Regions from separate parts of the Homo sapiens genome. Here all the other regions are reported to be linked to region 3. The links are microRNA targets in miRTarBase. Many come from high-throughput screens and were not tested one by one. Region 3 holds a microRNA gene; each other region holds the end of a gene's coding sequence.
Evidence for each region. Region 3 holds the annotated microRNA hsa-miR-1976 (CCUCCUGCCCUCCUUGCUGU, at 2,035-2,054, shown strand). A microRNA usually pairs through its seed, bases 2 to 8, with sites in the 3' UTR of a target mRNA and lowers its output. Matches are read on the target gene's strand: a 7mer-m8 pairs with bases 2 to 8, a 7mer-A1 pairs with bases 2 to 7 and ends in A, and an 8mer does both.

Region 1: miRTarBase lists ACO1 as a target of hsa-miR-1976. Seed matches in the 3' UTR shown: 7mer-m8 at 1,999-2,005 and 8mer at 2,412-2,419.
Region 2: miRTarBase lists RASSF6 as a target of hsa-miR-1976. Seed matches in the 3' UTR shown: 8mer at 3,313-3,320.
Region 4: miRTarBase lists BAIAP2L1 as a target of hsa-miR-1976. Seed matches in the 3' UTR shown: 8mer at 2,415-2,422.

What each region holds. Positions count from the first base shown.
Region 1 is chr9:32,449,557-32,453,772 of GRCh38, forward strand. ACO1 (aconitase 1) reads left to right here. Exons shown (of 21, transcript NM_002197.3): 21 at 442-4,216. The coding sequence ends at 555. Among named protein-coding and RNA genes, the nearest start is that of ACO1, 67 kb to the left of the region's middle.
Region 2 is chr4:73,572,337-73,576,552 of GRCh38, reverse strand. It overlaps RASSF6 (Ras association domain family member 6), which reads left to right. Exons shown (of 11, transcript NM_177532.5): 10 at 46-143; 11 at 243-4,216. The coding sequence ends at 318. Among named protein-coding and RNA genes, the nearest start is that of RASSF6, 46 kb to the left of the region's middle.
Region 3 is chr1:26,552,540-26,557,042 of GRCh38, forward strand. It overlaps MIR1976 (microRNA 1976), which reads left to right and starts at 2,003; the gene lies at 2,003-2,054. It overlaps RPS6KA1 (ribosomal protein S6 kinase A1), which reads left to right. Exons shown (of 22, transcript NM_002953.4): 7 at 852-958; 8 at 1,675-1,712; 9 at 2,057-2,199; 10 at 2,612-2,682; 11 at 2,998-3,086; 12 at 4,115-4,179; 13 at 4,459-4,503.
Region 4 is chr7:98,289,914-98,294,129 of GRCh38, forward strand. It overlaps BAIAP2L1 (BAR/IMD domain containing adaptor protein 2 like 1), which reads right to left. Exons shown (of 14, transcript NM_018842.5): 13 at 4,161-4,198; 14 at 1,737-3,683. The coding sequence ends at 3,608. BRI3 (brain protein I3) reads left to right here. Exons shown (of 3, transcript NM_015379.5): 3 at 1,198-1,632. The coding sequence ends at 1,330. Among named protein-coding and RNA genes, the nearest start is that of BRI3, 10 kb to the left of the region's middle.

The sequences.
Region 1 (4,216 bases), not on the chromosome of region 3:
ACAGAGGCAGTGCAAAAGTCTGTGTCTCAGATAAGCAGATGGGCCAGCTGCCTAAGGGACAACCTTAATGAAATCTCTGCTGATTGAATACTTCTGTCCACAGGGAGCCCCCAGAGGTTTAGAAAATACCACCCTGATGTCATTAATAGCTACTGCCCTGAGAAGCTATTTCTAGTTCTTAGATGGCTCTCACCCCCATCATTTACAGTCTGCAGTGATTCTCAAACTGTAATGGGCAAAGCAGCCTCCCAGAGATCTTGCTGAAATGCATCTTCTGATTTAGTGGGTCTGGGCTGGGGCCAGCAGCCTTGCATGTCCTCATGTGCTGCTGGTGTTACTGAAGTGTGGACCACACCTGAGGGGCAGGCTGGGCAGAATTTCCTCCGAGCAGAGCTGTCTCGCCACCTCCCTCAATGATGCTTCTGTTTCTTTGTGCCACAGCTGGATACTGGCAAGACCTTCCAGGCTGTCATGAGGTTTGACACTGATGTGGAGCTCACTTATTTCCTCAACGGGGGCATCCTCAACTACATGATCCGCAAGATGGCCAAGTAGGAGACGTGCACTTGGTGCTGCGCCCAGGGAGGAAGCCGCACCACCAGCCAGCGCAGGCCCTGGTGGAGAGGCCTCCCTGGCTGCCTCTGGGAGGGGTGCTGCCTTGTAGATGGAGCAAGTGAGCACTGAGGGTCTGGTGCCAATCCTGTAGGCACAAAACCAGAAGTTTCTACATTCTCTATTTTTGTTAATCATCTTCTCTTTTTCCAGAATTTGGAAGCTAGAATGGTGGGAATGTCAGTAGTGCCAGAAAGAGAGAACCAAGCTTGTCTTTAAAGTTACTGATCACAGGACGTTGCTTTTTCACTGTTTCCTATTAATCTTCAGCTGAACACAAGCAAACCTTCTCAGGAGGTGTCTCCTACCCTCTTATTGTTCCTCTTACGCTCTGCTCAATGAAACCTTCCTCTTGAGGGTCATTTTCCTTTCTGTATTAATTATACCAGTGTTAAGTGACATAGATAAGAACTTTGCACACTTCAAATCAGAGCAGTGATTCTCTCTTCTCTCCCCTTTTCCTTCAGAGTGAATCATCCAGACTCCTCATGGATAGGTCGGGTGTTAAAGTTGTTTTGATTATGTACCTTTTGATAGATCCACATAAAAAGAAATGTGAAGTTTTCTTTTACTATCTTTTCATTTATCAAGCAGAGACCTTTGTTGGGAGGCGGTTTGGGAGAACACATTTCTAATTTGAATGAAATGAAATCTATTTTCAGTGAAAACTTGTTGACTTTGAGTTTTGCTGTGTTTGTGGCTAGAGTTTTGGGATATTTAGTACAGAGTGAATCTCACACCATATCATTGGGAAGCCTGAATAACCTTCATATTCTCCCATTTTTACAACTCTATCAGAACTGTACGGGTATAACGGAAATGTTTAGGAACCATTATGCTCGCTCTTCCCTGTTTGGGAGCAGACAAGAAGGAAGAGTAGCCTGGTGGCAGTGGCAACGATATAAGTACATAAGGAAAAGCAGATAAACTTCAGGACACTAAAAACCAATTATCTGCTCATTTTTACCCCTGTAGTCATTTCTGGGCATGCCTTAGTTTGCTTGGGTTGCTATAATGTAATGCCATAGACTGGCTGAAAGAACAGAAATGTATTTTCTCACAGTTATGGAGGCTGGAATTCTGAGATCAAAGTTGAAGCCACTTCATTTTCTGGTGAGGACACTCTTCCTGGTTTACAGATGGCCACCTTCTTGCTTGTTCTCACATGGCATTTCTTTGGTATGTGCCTGGTGGGGGAGAGAGAAAATAGGCTCTCATGTCTCTTCTTACAGCAACACTAATTGTATTGGATCAGGGTCCCACTCTTATGGAGACCCAGGAAAGCTGGTGGTATAACAACTTGGTTCAAGTCCAAATGCCTAAGAACCTGGGGAGGGGCATGGGGAATGCTGGTATAAGTCCCAGAGTCTGAATGCCCAGGAACAAGCAGGAGCTGTGATGTCCAAGGACAGGAGGGCAGGATCTTTGTAATGAATTTTTAATGTCAACCTTAGCACTCAGGGGATATGGCCTGGTCATCAGAACATCTGGAATCTAATCCTCTTTCTACTTCTCACCAGATGAGGGATCAAGACAGGTTATTTAGCATCCCTGCACTTGCGGTCCTGGGGATCTTATTTATATTCATTTAAAAAATAAATTACAAACAAACAGCCAGGCGCAGTGGCTCATGCCTATAATTCCATCACTTTGGGAGGCCGAGGTGGGTAGATCACCTGAGGTCAGGAGTTCTAGACCAGCCTGGCCAACATGGTGAAACCCCGTCTCTACTAAAAATACAAAAAATTAGCCAGGTGTGGTATTGTGTGCCTGTAATCCCAGCTACACAGGAGGCTGAGGCAGGAGAATTGCTTAAACCCGGGATGCAGAGGCTGCAGTGAGCCGAGATCGTGCCATTGCACGCCCGCCTGGGCTACAAGAGCAAAGCTCCGTCTCAAAAAAAAAAAAAAATTACAAACAAACAGAACTCCATTGTACAAAAAAACCTGTGATCCTCAAGTTAAGATCAGTCCTAGAATAAAAACACTAAGAATGGCTGAGAAAACAGACCTCCACCCTCTCAGCTCTCCATTACTGAGCAGCTGGGGAGCTGTCTCGCTCCCCGCATTCAGTGGCTCCTGTGGTCTGTATTTTTGTATCCTCCCCAAAATTCAGGTGGTGAAACCTTAACCCCCCAGGTAATGGTAATAGAAGCTGGGGCCTTTGGAAGGTGATTAGATCATGAGGGTAGTGCCTTTTAAAAGAGACTCAAGATAAGATAGAGACCCCCTCATTTCTTCTGCCATGGGAGAACACAGCAAGAAGTCACCATCCGTGAACCAGAAAGTGGGTTCTCACCAGATACTGAATCTGCCAGTGCCTTGAACCTAGACTTTCCAGCCAGAACTGTGAGAAATTTCTATTGTTTATAAGCCACCCAGTTGATATTTAGTTACAGCAGCCCAACCAAGACTGTGGTTATGAGGAAACAAACACATTATTGTGGCTAGACTAATGGAATTGGGTCCCTTACCTCCAAGTACACCCTCTGTCCTTTTCGGTAAAAATATCTTCGCCAGGCACGGTGTCTCATGCCTATGATCCCAACACTTTGGGAGGCCGAGGCTGGAGGGTTGCTTGAGCCCAGAAGTTTGAGACCAGCCTGGGCAACACTCTACAAAAAAAAAAATAAATAAATAAATAAATAAAATAAATCAGCCAGGTGTGCACCTGTGGTCCCAGCTGTTCAGGAGGCTGAGGTGGGAGGATCACTTGAGCCTGGGAGGTCGTGGCTATGATTGCTCCACTGCACTCCAGCCTGGGCAATAGAGTGAGACCCTATCAATCAATCACCACCCCCCCCCCCCCCAAAAAAAAAAGTATCTTGGCCAGTGTCTCAACCTTGCCCACTAACAAGCCTAAATAAACCAACTTCTTTTACCTGGTTCTTTAAGGGCTGCTCGTCTTACTATCCAAATTAAAAATCTGCTGTTCTCCCTCCCATATTCTTTGCGAATGAAGATTCCCCTGTTTGTTTGGATAGTTTTCCAAATTCATTACTGCATTCCTGGCATCCGCAGCAAGCTAAGAGTTAGTTAATATTTTTAATATAGCAAATAAGGATGAGGGATGCCCTTCATGTGTATTTACACACCAGATTTTTATGGTACATAGGGAGTAATCTAGGGAAAAGATATATTAGGCATGAATCTTAGCTGTGGTAGAAGCACAGCTCAAATTAGCTTAAGGAAAAAAAAAAAAAAGCTGGCTCATAGAACTTGAGGACAGTGGTGGCCATGACTATGGGCTTGATTGGATCTAGTGACTCAAGCTCCCTTCCATTTGCCCCTCCAACCACCCCCCCATCCCTCCACCAATCATACCTTCTGTTGGCCTCTGCAGTAGAGTGGCCTCTTCTGGGCCCTTCCACATGCCAGGGGATATGGCCACCAGCAGTTCTGGGGAAACCATTAGTAATTTGTGATCGTAGAGATTTGTCTCCCAGTATTCCCTAGGGCAAAAATATTGGGAGTTCCTAGTCACCTAAATGAAGAACCTTATTTTTAGCAGTTTCCCTTTCAGGGCTCTAACAGGACTGTGGAGTAATGTACGGGGTTATGTAGGAGCAATGCAGAGCCACTTTTGAAAAACAGTAGCCAAGGTT
Region 2 (4,216 bases), not on the chromosome of region 3:
ATAATTGTTCTGCTTTCTTTTTTTTTTCTTCTTCTTCTTTCTTAGGTGGCTCAGTACATTAACTTTCACTTTTCTCTCTTGGAATCCATTCTTCAAAGATTAAATGAAGAAGAGAAAAGAGAGATTCAAAGAATAGTAACAAAGTAAGTCAAGAGCATGCACATTGGATACTCCGTTCTTTAATATGTCCAATGCACAAAATATGTCCAATTTTTAATAGTCTTTCTTCTTCTCATTTTCAGATTCAATAAAGAAAAGGCGATTATACTGAAATGTCTTCAAAATAAACTAGTAATAAAAACAGAGACAACAGTTTAGCAGTACAAGCTTCTATTGCTAAAACATTTCAAAAAACTCAGAGATATTACTCTTTGATGAATGCATAAGTTCTGTACTTGCATTTATACGAACATATATGAGACTTGAATCGTAGAAAATTGAATGTCAAAAAAAGCTCATTTCTTTTTGAAGTGATGAGGTTAATTAGGGTTCACAGTTGGACAAAATGAGTTTGAGTTTAGTTTCAGTAACTGAAATAAGCTTGAATACTGCATATGCCAAATAGCTTTTATAGTAAACCATGTAATGAACTCAAATTTAAATGGTGTCTTCAGATAAGCAGTTTAAACTTCATTTAGCTTGGACTCTCAAGAGAACTGAAACATAATCAATGGATTCAGAAATGACTCAGAAAAAAGAAGCTGCCAGTTCTTGGAATGAAAAAGAAATACAGTCTTACACCATCAAGGAATCTACCTGATAGTGACAGTAGCTTCTTGAAAACTCTGGCATTTTCATAAAATCTAGGACTATCTTAAATGGCCTGTTGACTTCTGACTATCTGTAACATCAGAGCTGTCTGGCCTTTGGAAAGGAAAAATTATGGACTCTGTTAAGAAATCCTAATTGAAATTTTCTGAACCTCCCCCCAGCCCTTTTATTCTCTCTCTTCTGCTGATGAAAGACCTTTCATCAGTTCAAAGCTTTTCTTAAGCTCTTTTTTAAGTTAATTGAACTTTTTCTTTATTTATTTTTCAAAAAAATGTTTATATCACATAGACATATTACATCGGCTAAAGTAAGACTTGGCCCACAAATACCTATTTGTTGCTGAATGAATACAATGGATAAAGCAAGGCTGTTGTAGCTGAAGTTACATAGGGAATCCCAAACTCTGCCCTCTTAGCATCTTATTCTACATGACAACTCTCAAGGTACTCACAGATCTGTTTAACCCACTTGAAAAAAAAACACTAAAAATGAAGAAATGCTATAAGTATAAACTATGATTTTATTTATAAATTCTGTATTAAAATGGAATTATATGCAACATTCTTTCATTCTGTAAACTAATTCCATTTGCATTCCTCATAAGCATTGTAGTAAATTGATCATATTACATGTACTAAGGAATGAGATTATATGCAGTAAACCCAACTGGAAGATTAACAATATTAAAATATGAAACATTTTTAAGACAAAGGCATTACTTCTCAGTATTACCAAACCTAAACTGGTTGAAGGTGAAAGTGTGCTATGGCCTTTTCAAGCCTAAGAAGTCTCTCTTACTGAGTAAACCAGAGGCTTGCATCGCTATTCTTTCACCTGTCAATATTAATAAGAAAATAGTCTCATCTCACTTAAATGAGGCAAATGTAATAGTTAAAATTCAACATACTTATAAAAAACTAGTGTCATGTACCTGCCATGAACATGACAAAAGGTTAGTCTTCAATAGACTGAAATGTATAAGAGAAGAACCAAGTCTTACATAGAAAAAAAAGGTAGATATGAAAAGAAAAATCACAGAAGAGAGAATGCAAATGGCCACTAAGTATATGAAAAAAGTCGTATCTTAACAGTGAACAACTGTGTTAGTCTGTATCAATCAGAAGACAGAAACAAGGTAGTAATTTAAACAGGGAAAGTTTAATATAAATAATAATTAAGCTATGATAGGAGAATAATAATAAAGATGAAAAGAGAAGGTACCCTAAGGCTGAGGGAAAGAATCCTAACAAGGAAAGGCAGGAATGAGGGTTTCAGAATTCACTGGAGAAGGTGTGGTTGCAGCCCACTGGAGAGAAGTTTGCTGGCTTGCCCAGGCCAGAGCAGGACCACAGATACTGGACAAGCTGGTACAGCCAACCCCCTAGGTGTGGACCAGCTGAGGCAGGTGGGCAGATATGCAGAGGGACTTGGGGCTTTGCCAAAGGGTAAGCACAAAGAAGGAGTCACGGGTTCTGTTCGAGGCACTGTTGGGATTAGGAGCCGGAGGGACCTACTTTGCAGGAACCTAGCATAACTTTGTGTGACGAGACTGCACAAGACAAAGCTCAGGCAAGTGGCTCAGTAGTTGGCCAGCCCAGCAGGGTCCTCTGTATGAGTGTGCACCCAGCTGAAGAGAAGAAATGGAGAGCAGCAATTGGAGCTTCAGGACCGGCTTGCACTGTGGCTCCAGGTTATACCACCACTGCCCAAAGCAAAAGCTAGAGAAGCAAGTGGAGAAATGCTGGAGAAAGCTGCACCCTACAGGCAACCAGCACTGCAGAAACCACTCCAGGCAAAGTAGTGAAGGAAAAAAGCCTGCTCTCCAGTAGCCTGGCCTGTCAGCCTGGAGGAATCAGGAAAGACCCCTTCCTCTTGCAGTGTGTCTCCAGCGCCCTCTACTGACAAAGTATGCCATCATGCAAGCTGCAAAGGAAACATTTCAAGAGTCTATATCTATTTTCACGGAGCGGGCAACCAACAGTGAATGTGGAGCTGAGAGACAGTAAAATAATAACTGACATGCCACCGAAGTACAAAGTAAAATAAATAAATAAATACACATTTTGGCCTATTAGCAAAGATTAAGAAATGATAACATTAAATACTCAATAAATCACCATGAGATGGGGACTCAAACTTCTGGTAAAAATACAAATAGATATAATTTTTCTTGAAGGCAATTTAGTAGTCTGTTTATCCTATAATTCTACTTGTAAGATCCTATCATATGAAAATAACCAGAGATACAAAGACATTCTGCAAAGATATGTTTTATATTGTTATTTATTGTGACAAAAGGAAATAAAAAGCCTAAATGTTCAGAAAATTATTTTAAAAGATGAAAGAGGGAAATAGGCCATGGACGGTGGCTCACGCCTGTAATCCCAGCACTTTAGGAGGCCAAGGTAGGTGGATCACTTGAGGTTGGGATTTCGAGACCAGCCTGGCCAACATGGTGAAACCCTGCCTCTACTAAAAATACAAAAAATGAGCCGGGTGCAATGGCAGGCACCTATAATGCCAGCTACTCGGGAGGCTGAGGCAGGAGAATCGCTTGAACCCGGGAGGCGGAGGTTGCATGAGCCGAGATGGCGCCACTGCTCTCCAGCCTGGACGACAGAGCAAGACTCCGTCTCTAAAAAAAAAAAAAGAGGGAAATAAACATTTATTTGTATATTGTTATGTAGCCATTAAAATTCTGTTTCCAAGTAATTTTAATTACAGGGGTAAATTCTTATATATCTAAATAAGAATATACACATACACATGTTCCAAAATATTTATTATGTACTTAAGGCATATATATTATATATGTATGTGTGTGTATATATATATGTATTTGTGTGTGTGAACACTAATATTTGCATATATATACACACAAGAAATAAAAACATGTTAAAAATGGCTATATCTGCATTGTAGAATTATGAGTGATTCATGTTTTTCTAACTTCCCTATCTGTATTAAGTGTTCTATAGTTTATATTTGTTACTTTTTACATCAGGAAATAGTAAAGTTATTATTTAAAACTTATGAACAAAAAAGTAACAAGCACATGCAAGCACAGAGTTCTACCAAATGCAAAAAATTTCAAATCAATTATTCAAATGAGACATTAACATCACTTCTGTGGTAGTTTTATATCCATAAAGTCTGATTCTTCTCCTTTGAAGAGATGAAGCTTAATCTTCCTCATCCTGAAAATGGGCTGGACTTAGTGACTTACGTCTTTTTATTTTATTTTTAATTGACAAATAATAATTGTATGTATTTATGGGGTACAATATTATATTATTATATATGTATACATTATGGAATTATTAAATCAAGCTAATTAACATATCCATAACCTCTTATAATTTCTTTGTGGTGAGAACATTTAAAAATGTACTCTTTTAGCAATTAGGGACTTACTTTTAATACAGGAAAATGGAAGAGACTGTGA
Region 3 (4,503 bases):
GCACTGGTGGGGTCTCAGCTCACTGCAACCTCCGCCTCCCGGGTTCAAGCAATTCTCCTGCCTCAGCCTCCCGAGTAGCTGGGATGACAGGTGCACGCCACCACGCCTGGTTAATTTTTGTATTTTTGGTAGAGACAGGGTTTCTCCATGTTGGCCAGGCTGGTCTCGAACTCCTGACCTCGGGTGATCCGCCTGCCTCAGCCTCCCAAACTGCTGGCTGGGATTATAGGTGTGAGCCACCGTGCCCGGCTTAAATTGTGATTTTAATGTTTGAATAGGTAATATACATGATTCAAAAGAAAAATATTCATGAAGAAGTCTTCCTCCCACCCCAGCCCCCTCTATTCCCATCTATAGGTAAACATTTTTATTGGTTTCTTGTTTAACTTTCCCATGTTTCTTTTGCAAACAAATCCGATATATGTTCATTCCTACCCCCATTTCCTTATGTAAAAAGTACTATTCTGTATACACTGTTCTGTACCTTGCTTTTTTCAAGATAGTATATCTTGGAGCTCACTCCATGTCAGAACACGGAGAAACTCCTTGTTCCAGTTCATGGCTGCAAAGCACTCCATTATGCAGGGGAGAGGGCTGATTCCAGCCTTCTACTCTTGGACCCTAGGCCTGTTTCCCACCCCTTCTATTTCTGAATGGTGCCACAATGAGTGGCTTGCGTATTAGTCATTTCATACTTCAAATCCTTTGTATGATGAGAAGGCTATATGGCCTGGGGTTTCCAAGGGTCCTCCCAGGGTGGCTCTTCAGGACCAGGAAGCTGCTGACTGCCCAGTGCCCCAGCTCTTAAGGAAGAGGAGGTCCCTGCTGAAGGCCCCTCCTGTCTTTTGCAGGTGATGTTCACGGAGGAGGATGTGAAGTTTTACCTGGCTGAGCTGGCTCTGGGCCTGGATCACCTGCACAGCCTGGGTATCATTTACAGAGACCTCAAGCCTGAGAAGTGAGTGAAGCCTCCAGCCCCACCCCAGCCTCCCCAGGGGAGGCCTCTTCTAGGACAGGGCCATCCTGAGGTGGGTGGGCATGGCTTTCTCCAGAAACGTCTCCCTCTCTTGGGCAATCTGAGGGATGGGTGAGTGGGGTGGGTGGTAGTGCCAGCTGCCCAGTCACTAATGCTACCATTACCAAGGGCCAGGTACTTTGCATGCAGGTAATGTTGCCCGTCTTTTTTTGCTAATCTAGTGTGACATTTGAGATGCCACCTTTAGAGGTCTTTCCTTGATAAAGCCCTATAGAATTTTCCCTAATATCTAACTACCCTCAAATGATAACTAAGGAGCCAGGGGCAGGTGGTGAGTTGGAATAAGATCTGGCTTTAGTGTTAGGCAGCCCTGTATTCAAATCCTGTCTCCACCTACTAGCTAGACTTACTAGCTCAATGACTGTAGAGCTACTTAACTGCCCTGAGCCTTAGTTTTCCCATTAGCAAAACGGGGCCCTAATAGTACTTGCCTCACACAGTTGCTTCAAGGATTAGCAAAAAAGATAGGCAACACCCCTGCGTGGTACTGCTACCACCCTGCAACACCCGCCCAGTCATCAGAGAGAATTGGGTGGAGCACCTCCTCTGGGCTGAACCCAACTCCCACAGCCCTGTGGTAACACCATCACCCACACGGCCACAGCTGAGGGGCCCTGACCACTATTTCTCTATTACAGCATCCTTCTGGATGAGGAGGGCCACATCAAACTCACTGGTGAGTGGAGGGCGCCTGCCCCCTCGGGACCCAGGGGAGGACAGGACAAGGTCATGATAGGTCTCGGCTGAGTGCTGGGGGCTCATTCTTCCCGAGAAGCCGTGCCAGTTACTTGGAAGTGGTCAAAAACTCAGGCCTCAGACTTGGAACACCCTCAGCTGGAATCCCAGCCCCTCATTGTGTAACGTTGAGCAAGTCACCTGACCTCTCTGGGCCTTAGCTTCCTCCTGAGTGTCATGGGGGTGATGCCTTCTGGCCTCTGGGCACGGGGGTTGGGTGTGCAAAGGGTGGCAGCAAGGAAGGCAGGGGTCCTAAGGTGTGTCCTCCTGCCCTCCTTGCTGTAGACTTTGGCCTGAGCAAAGAGGCCATTGACCACGAGAAGAAGGCCTATTCTTTCTGCGGGACAGTGGAGTACATGGCCCCTGAGGTCGTCAACCGCCAGGGCCACTCCCATAGTGCGGACTGGTGGTCCTATGGGGTGTTGATGGTGAGTGCCCAGACAGGGGTAAAGGATCCAGCCCAAGCCTCTGGCCTCAGTCTCCCTATCTGTACAGTGAGGGGGTTGATCATTTCTAGGGCTCTCCCCGTCTCCTCTCACAGCCAAGCTGGCCTCACCCTATATGCACCTGCAGTTTTCTTCCTTGGAAGGATCCCAGGCTTGACCCCACCTGGGACGCGCCTAACCCAGTGCTGGCCTTCTCCCCAGCCTCGCGCCCCCACCGCTGCTCCTGGTGGTCTGGTTGGCAGAGGCAAGAGGGACGGGCATAATTCTTGCTCCAGGCTGACTTGGATGTATCAGCAAGAATCCTGGGACTGGGGCAGAGGGGTCTGACTGGGAGGAGGCGGGAGGTGTGTCGGAGACAGGGATCAGAGCCTGAATAGATCCTTGTCCTCTGCAGTTTGAGATGCTGACGGGCTCCCTGCCCTTCCAGGGGAAGGACCGGAAGGAGACCATGACACTGATTCTGAAGTAAGCCCCAGCCCTGCCCTGATAACAATGGACTCCTCCAAGCCCCAGCCCCAGTTTGGGGGTCAGAATATTATTACCCTGTCCCTGCCTCAGCTACCCTCTCTAATGAGACTCTCCTCTGGGTTAAACATTATACCTTCCAGAGCCCCTCTTTCATCCCTGGGGGCCTGTGGGTAGGATCCCTGAAGCCTTTGGGAAGTGAATTAGTGGATGGCTTGTCTAGACTGAGCTGGGAACTAGATCTGGACAGGGGCCGGGGGAGATGGGGCCTCTGGGGCAGGGCTCAGCCTTGATGAGTCCCGGGGGCTGTTTCAGGGCGAAGCTAGGCATGCCCCAGTTTCTGAGCACTGAAGCCCAGAGCCTCTTGCGGGCCCTGTTCAAGCGGAATCCTGCCAACCGGCTCGGTAAGCAGCCCCAGCTCAGGGGAGGGGATGTGGCGATGGGGAGCCGGGTACAGCTGCAGCCTAGGCCACAGGGCCACATCTGGGCTGAAAGGGGCCGTTGTCCTTTGTGTGGGCAGACAATGCCGCGGGCCACCCTGCTTTCTGGCTCCATGTGTGGTGTTGTGGAGGGGGGAGTTGACCTGTGTGTAGGGGGAAGGCAGGAACTGAGTCATCCCTACTCCCTCTGGGGACAAGGACAGAGGCCCCCACACAGCTTCTCCGCCAAGGCTGCTGGCACAAGAGAAATAGCATGAGCTCAGGAGTCAGAAGGCATAGGTCCCAATCCCGGCTCTGTGTCAGGTCCCCACTGCCTGGCACAAAACAGTCCCTCTATAAATATTTGTTAAACGAATGAGGCCACTTATGAACTAAGTGACCCCAGGCAGGTGACTTCACCTCTCTGCACCGCAGGTTCCTCGTCTCAATGGGAGATGATGATCCCAAGCTTGCTTCAGGGCTCTGTTGATGAAATGAGGTTGTGTGAACATGCCGGCATGTAGTAGGTGTCCAGTGTGTGCTGGCTTCCCTGGCTCCTGGGTTCATCTGGTCCATGACCAGCTGTGTAAGGTCCAGTCAAGGCCCCTGGGGTCGAATGGAGTAACAGCCTGTCCTATGGTTGAAAAGGTCAATGGGATAAGAGGAACAGAGATGAGGCTTGCCTTGGAATGAGGTGGGGCTCTCTGTAGGTCTCAGAACAAGCTCAGCTTCTGTTCTAACTGTGTGGCCTTGGAGAAGTTGCCTAAAGTCTCTGGGCCTTCCTCCTCCCACTGGTACATTGGAATTTCTTCATCAGAAGCTCCAGAAAGTGGAAAATGCTGAGTAGGTGACAGGCCTTAGGGTGATGGCTGGGTAGATTTGAGGCTGAGTGAGCCCATTTTCCCCTCTGCTCCAGCAGCTGGTCCCAGAGCCCTGTGAGGCTGCTTGGTGGGCAGGGTAATATCTGGGACTTGTGCCAGCCAGGGACAGACCCTTCATTTGGGCTCTTTCAGGCTCCGGCCCTGATGGGGCAGAGGAAATCAAGCGGCATGTCTTCTACTCCACCATTGACTGGAATGTGAGTGTGTCCACCCACACCAGGGCTCTGGCCAGGGCTCAGCCATCTTGGCCACAGGAAGGGTGGTGGGAGGGGAGCCTCTGCCAGCGAGGGCCCCAGACGCAGGAGCAGAGGGTCACAGCCTGCCCTTGAAGACAAGGGCTGGCCTCCTGAGGGCAAGCAATTCCGAGAGCTGGGCAATATGGCCTATGTTCCAAGCCCAGCACCTCCTCCTGCATGGGGCTCCTGGTGGGCTGTTGAGGATGCCATGGTGACCAGAGTGCCCACCCCACTGTGCAGAAGCTATACCGTCGTGAGATCAAGCCACCCTTCAAGCCAGCAGTG
Region 4 (4,216 bases), not on the chromosome of region 3:
ATGGCCTGCAGGTGTCTTTAGTCTGTTACAAACATTGAACTTTGTTGAAGAGGCGGCTTTGAGATCACATTTCTCAAAATAAGTGGCCTTCAGACATTGTGTGAACATGGCCGACTGTAGTCTCCCATTAACCCACCCCCGCTACCAAAGGAACGGAAATCGAATAAAAGCCCAAACCTGACTGGATCACTAAGCTGCTAGTTGCTCCTTTTCTAAGAGCAGATGTATGTGGCTTGTGGCACCAAAATGATCATGCCTCTCAAGGTTGTTTTTTTTTTTTTTTTTTTTTTTTTGAGACGGAGTCTCGCTCTGTCGCCCAGGCCGGACTGTGGACTGCAGTGGCACAATCTCGGCTCACTGCAAGCTCCGCTTCCTGGGTTCACGCCATTCTCCTGCCTCAGCCTCCTGAGTAGCTGGGACTACAGGCGCCCGCCACCGCGCCCGGCTAATTTTTTGTATTTTTAGTAGAGACGGGGTTTCACCTTGTTAGCCAGGATGGTCTCGATCTCCTGACCTCATGATCCACCCGCCTCGGCCTCCCAAAGTGCTGGGATTACAGGCGTGAGCCACCGCGCCCGGCCATCTCTCAAGGTTTTACTTTTTGAGATGGAGTCTCGCTCTGTCGCCCAGCCTGGAGTGTAGTGGCTTAATCTCGGCTCACTGCAACCTCTGCCTCCTGGATTCAAGCGATTCTCCTGCCTCAGCCTCCCAAGTAGCCGGGACTACAGGCATGTGCCACCACGCCTGGCAGATTTTTGTATTGTTAGTAGAGACAGGGTTTCACCGTGTTGGCCAGGCTGGTCTTGAACTCCTGAACTCAGGTGATCCACCCGCCTCCGCCTCCCACAGTGCTGGGATTACAGGCGTGAGCCACCACACACCCTGCCTTGCCTTTCAAGGTTAACTGATGAGTCCTTTCAACTGTTTTATTCTTCCCGTTTTCTTTGAATGTTACATGTAGTGATTAAATAACTATGGCCATTCCATGAACGGGTACGTGCAGCTGGTTCTTGGGGCTCTCCAGGCCAGTGGGCTGTAGCTGGGTGGTGGGGTGGGGGGCTGTTTTCTGTCACTCGCCAGAGGTCCCCATGTGACTCATGGCCACTGGTTGGTTATTGAATGCAAGGGTGGCAGGGGTGAGGGTTCTGGCTGCCCGGGTCCTTACGGTGCCACCCTCTCTGCCCGTCTCTGCTGCAGGGTTGGGGTGCTGGAGGACTGCTTCACCTTCCTGGGCATCTTCCTGGCCATCATCCTCTTCCCCTTTGGGTTCATTTGCTGTTTTGCCTTGAGGAAGCGACGATGCCCCAACTGTGGAGCCACCTTCGCTTAAAGGGAACACCAGGCCCGGCTTTCCTACACCCAGCTCTCTTTTTCTAATGTAAATGTTGTGTACAATAATTTTATTTGATTAAGCTTCAGGACTGTTTTGTAAAGCGAGGTGGGACCGATGTGGCACACGCCAGCTGCGGTTTCCCGGAGCGTGGAGAGGCAGTGCTGCTGCTCCCGCCCGAGGCTCATGACAACTCAATAAAGCACTGCTTTTATTTTTTGCAGTCTTCAATTTGAGAAAGGTGAGAAATAATGTTTTCAATAAATGAGATTCATACCATTGTTGACCTGGTGCTGCTTACTCGGTGCTTTCAGAGACCCAGGAAAGACTGGAACGACACCCCCATCGCTCCCCCGGCCAGTCCTGACCACAGTTGTATTCAGCAGGCGCTTACAGCTCAAGAAAATGTTTTCAAGTTCTGCTTTATTATTAAAGTTGTAATCCCTTGATATTTACAGAGCAGGCACCTCGGTGCCAAGGACCAGGCCATGCCCGTTCTGGTCTGGGAGGCAGAACCTGGGGTTGGGTGAGCCACGGGGTCTGCAGGTTGCATCCGAGACCCCCAGGTCCTATTCTTCCACCCCGTAACAAAACCAGAAACCTCCCCAAGGCAGAACGCCAAAGGCCAGGTGTCACCCACACCCCAGCAGTTCCCCTTAGCGCCAGATGGGGCTCCCTGAGCCCTGTGGCTGAAGTGGGGAACACGGCCATGGGGCTTGTGTGGACTGAATTCTCATGTGGCTGCAGCCCTTTCTGTAGTACAGACTGGGGTTGTTAACATAGTTCATGGTGCCTGCAGCCCCTTCATGGTGGGGGTGCCTGGTTTGTCCTCCCAGGAGAAGCAGATGGTAACACTGCTGGACCTGGCTGGAAGGAGCCTGAAGCATCGGCCACGTCCACTGGCTTACCTGCATGTAACCTTTCCCAATCTCAGCCTCATAGGATACTACACTTATGGCAAGGCTAAAGGAGAGGGGATAAGTCACAGCCCCAGCACCCAGCAACACACACGGTGAGCGGCCGGGCTGGAGTGCAGCAGCATGATCTGGCTCACTGCAACCTCTGCCTCCCGGGTTCAAGTGATTCTCCTGCCTCAGCCTCCTGAGTGGCGCCCACCACCACACCTGTCTAATTTTTGTATTTTTAGTAGAGACTCCTGACCTCAGGTGATCCCCCTGCCTCGGCCTCACAAAATGCTGGGATTCCCGTACCTGGGCCGGGCTGGGAATTTTAACCATGACTCTCCACTCCAAAATAGGTCCAGATCCTTGGCAGCCAAAGATGATTTCCAGCCCCGGGCTCAGGGCAGCCAGTGCGTAGTCCTCACATCCATACCATAGGGCCAGGTTCCGAGGGCATCATGGCTGCTAGGCTGAAAAACCCGCCCTTCTCCAGGCACCAGAGGTCATCCTGGCTTTACACGTATCCTTTGAGAGTCTGTACCTGATTCAAACACGGAGAAACCAGGACCCCGAGCAGTTTGAGTGTACTGGTAATGGATGCAGCTTTGGCCAACTAGCTGAGTGAGAACACAAGGAGCCGTGACTCCGACGCCCAGGCCTGTGTCCTGGATGGGCCGTGTGCAGCGAATCCGTTGGCGACTCCTAACTACCAAGAAAAGGAGCTCTCGGAGGAGATTTCGTCGAGTGCTACGTGTGGCTGTGATAAGGGCAGGCAAAGCGTCTTAGCACTCTACAGCTCTGGCGTGGTTGGAGGGAGGGTGGGGGTTTCTCCATCTCTGGAAGCTCTACACTTAAACATTTTAAGTTAAATTACATTTATATAGTATTTTCATAATTTATATTGCTTAAAATTATGATTTGCATGCTAAGATGCAAACTTACGTGATATCTTCTTTAGACATAATGCTATTAAGAGCACATGCTTTATAAAATAAAACTGGTCTCATTCATATCAGGTGCAGAAAGCCAGTCCTGAAAGCATAGACTATCCCTTATTCTGGCTGTTATTAAGGAAAAAATTCATTTAAAAAATACAGTAAAGATTGAAACCAAGTTTACTGTTTCTTGAACAGAATAGGAAGAAAATATTTTAAATGGCTGAGCTGGTCATTAGACTATTACTCATTTATCTTAAAGGCAGAAACTTGTCAACCCAACTACGTGAAACAGAGAAGCATGATTTGCTTAAGCAGGCGACATTAGAGTTAGGCCTCTCCACTGAAGCTTCCCGACCGTCAGCACGTGGCAGACAGGATGCGCCCATCATTCCGCAAGGGAGAACCGGAGAGGCCCGGGAGAGTCCTTGGCTGTCCTCTCATCGAATGATGGGTGCCGAGCGATCATTCGTCACAGTCGGGCGGAGTTTCACAGTGGCAAAGGGGTTTTCTCCGCTGCAGGGGATAAGAAAAATCTTTCAGAACTTCTGCTCTACGAGGGAAACTGGATTTTAACAGTGCTAATAACCCGTTCTTGCCCTGTGAGACTGGGCGGCTGACCACCTCCCCAGCTTGTACAGGTCCCAGCAGCGTTTTCTGAGTGTGAAAGTTTTGTTCAGTGATGATTCCTACACCATACCACCTGCTGCAGAACGATCCCAGGTTTTAAGCGTTCTGGACGTGGGCACCCACACCTCTTTAGTCCTGCATTGTGTGTGACATGGGGGTCACTCTGGGGTGGGGAAGCCCTGCTCCCAGCGTGGTCTAAAGTAGTTGGTAAAGCGAGCAGGGGGCTGCACTCCCCCATGGCTCCACAGGCCGAGGCCTTTCTCAGGCTGGACCCCCTGGGCTGGGCACCGAAGGCCCTTCCGGGGGACACTACAGGGAAGAGCAATGTCACACACTGAGGCTCACGTAGGAAGCCACGCCTACCTGAGAAAAGGCGGCTTTGCAGTCCCGTTGGCATCGTTCTGTGAGAAAGATAAAGA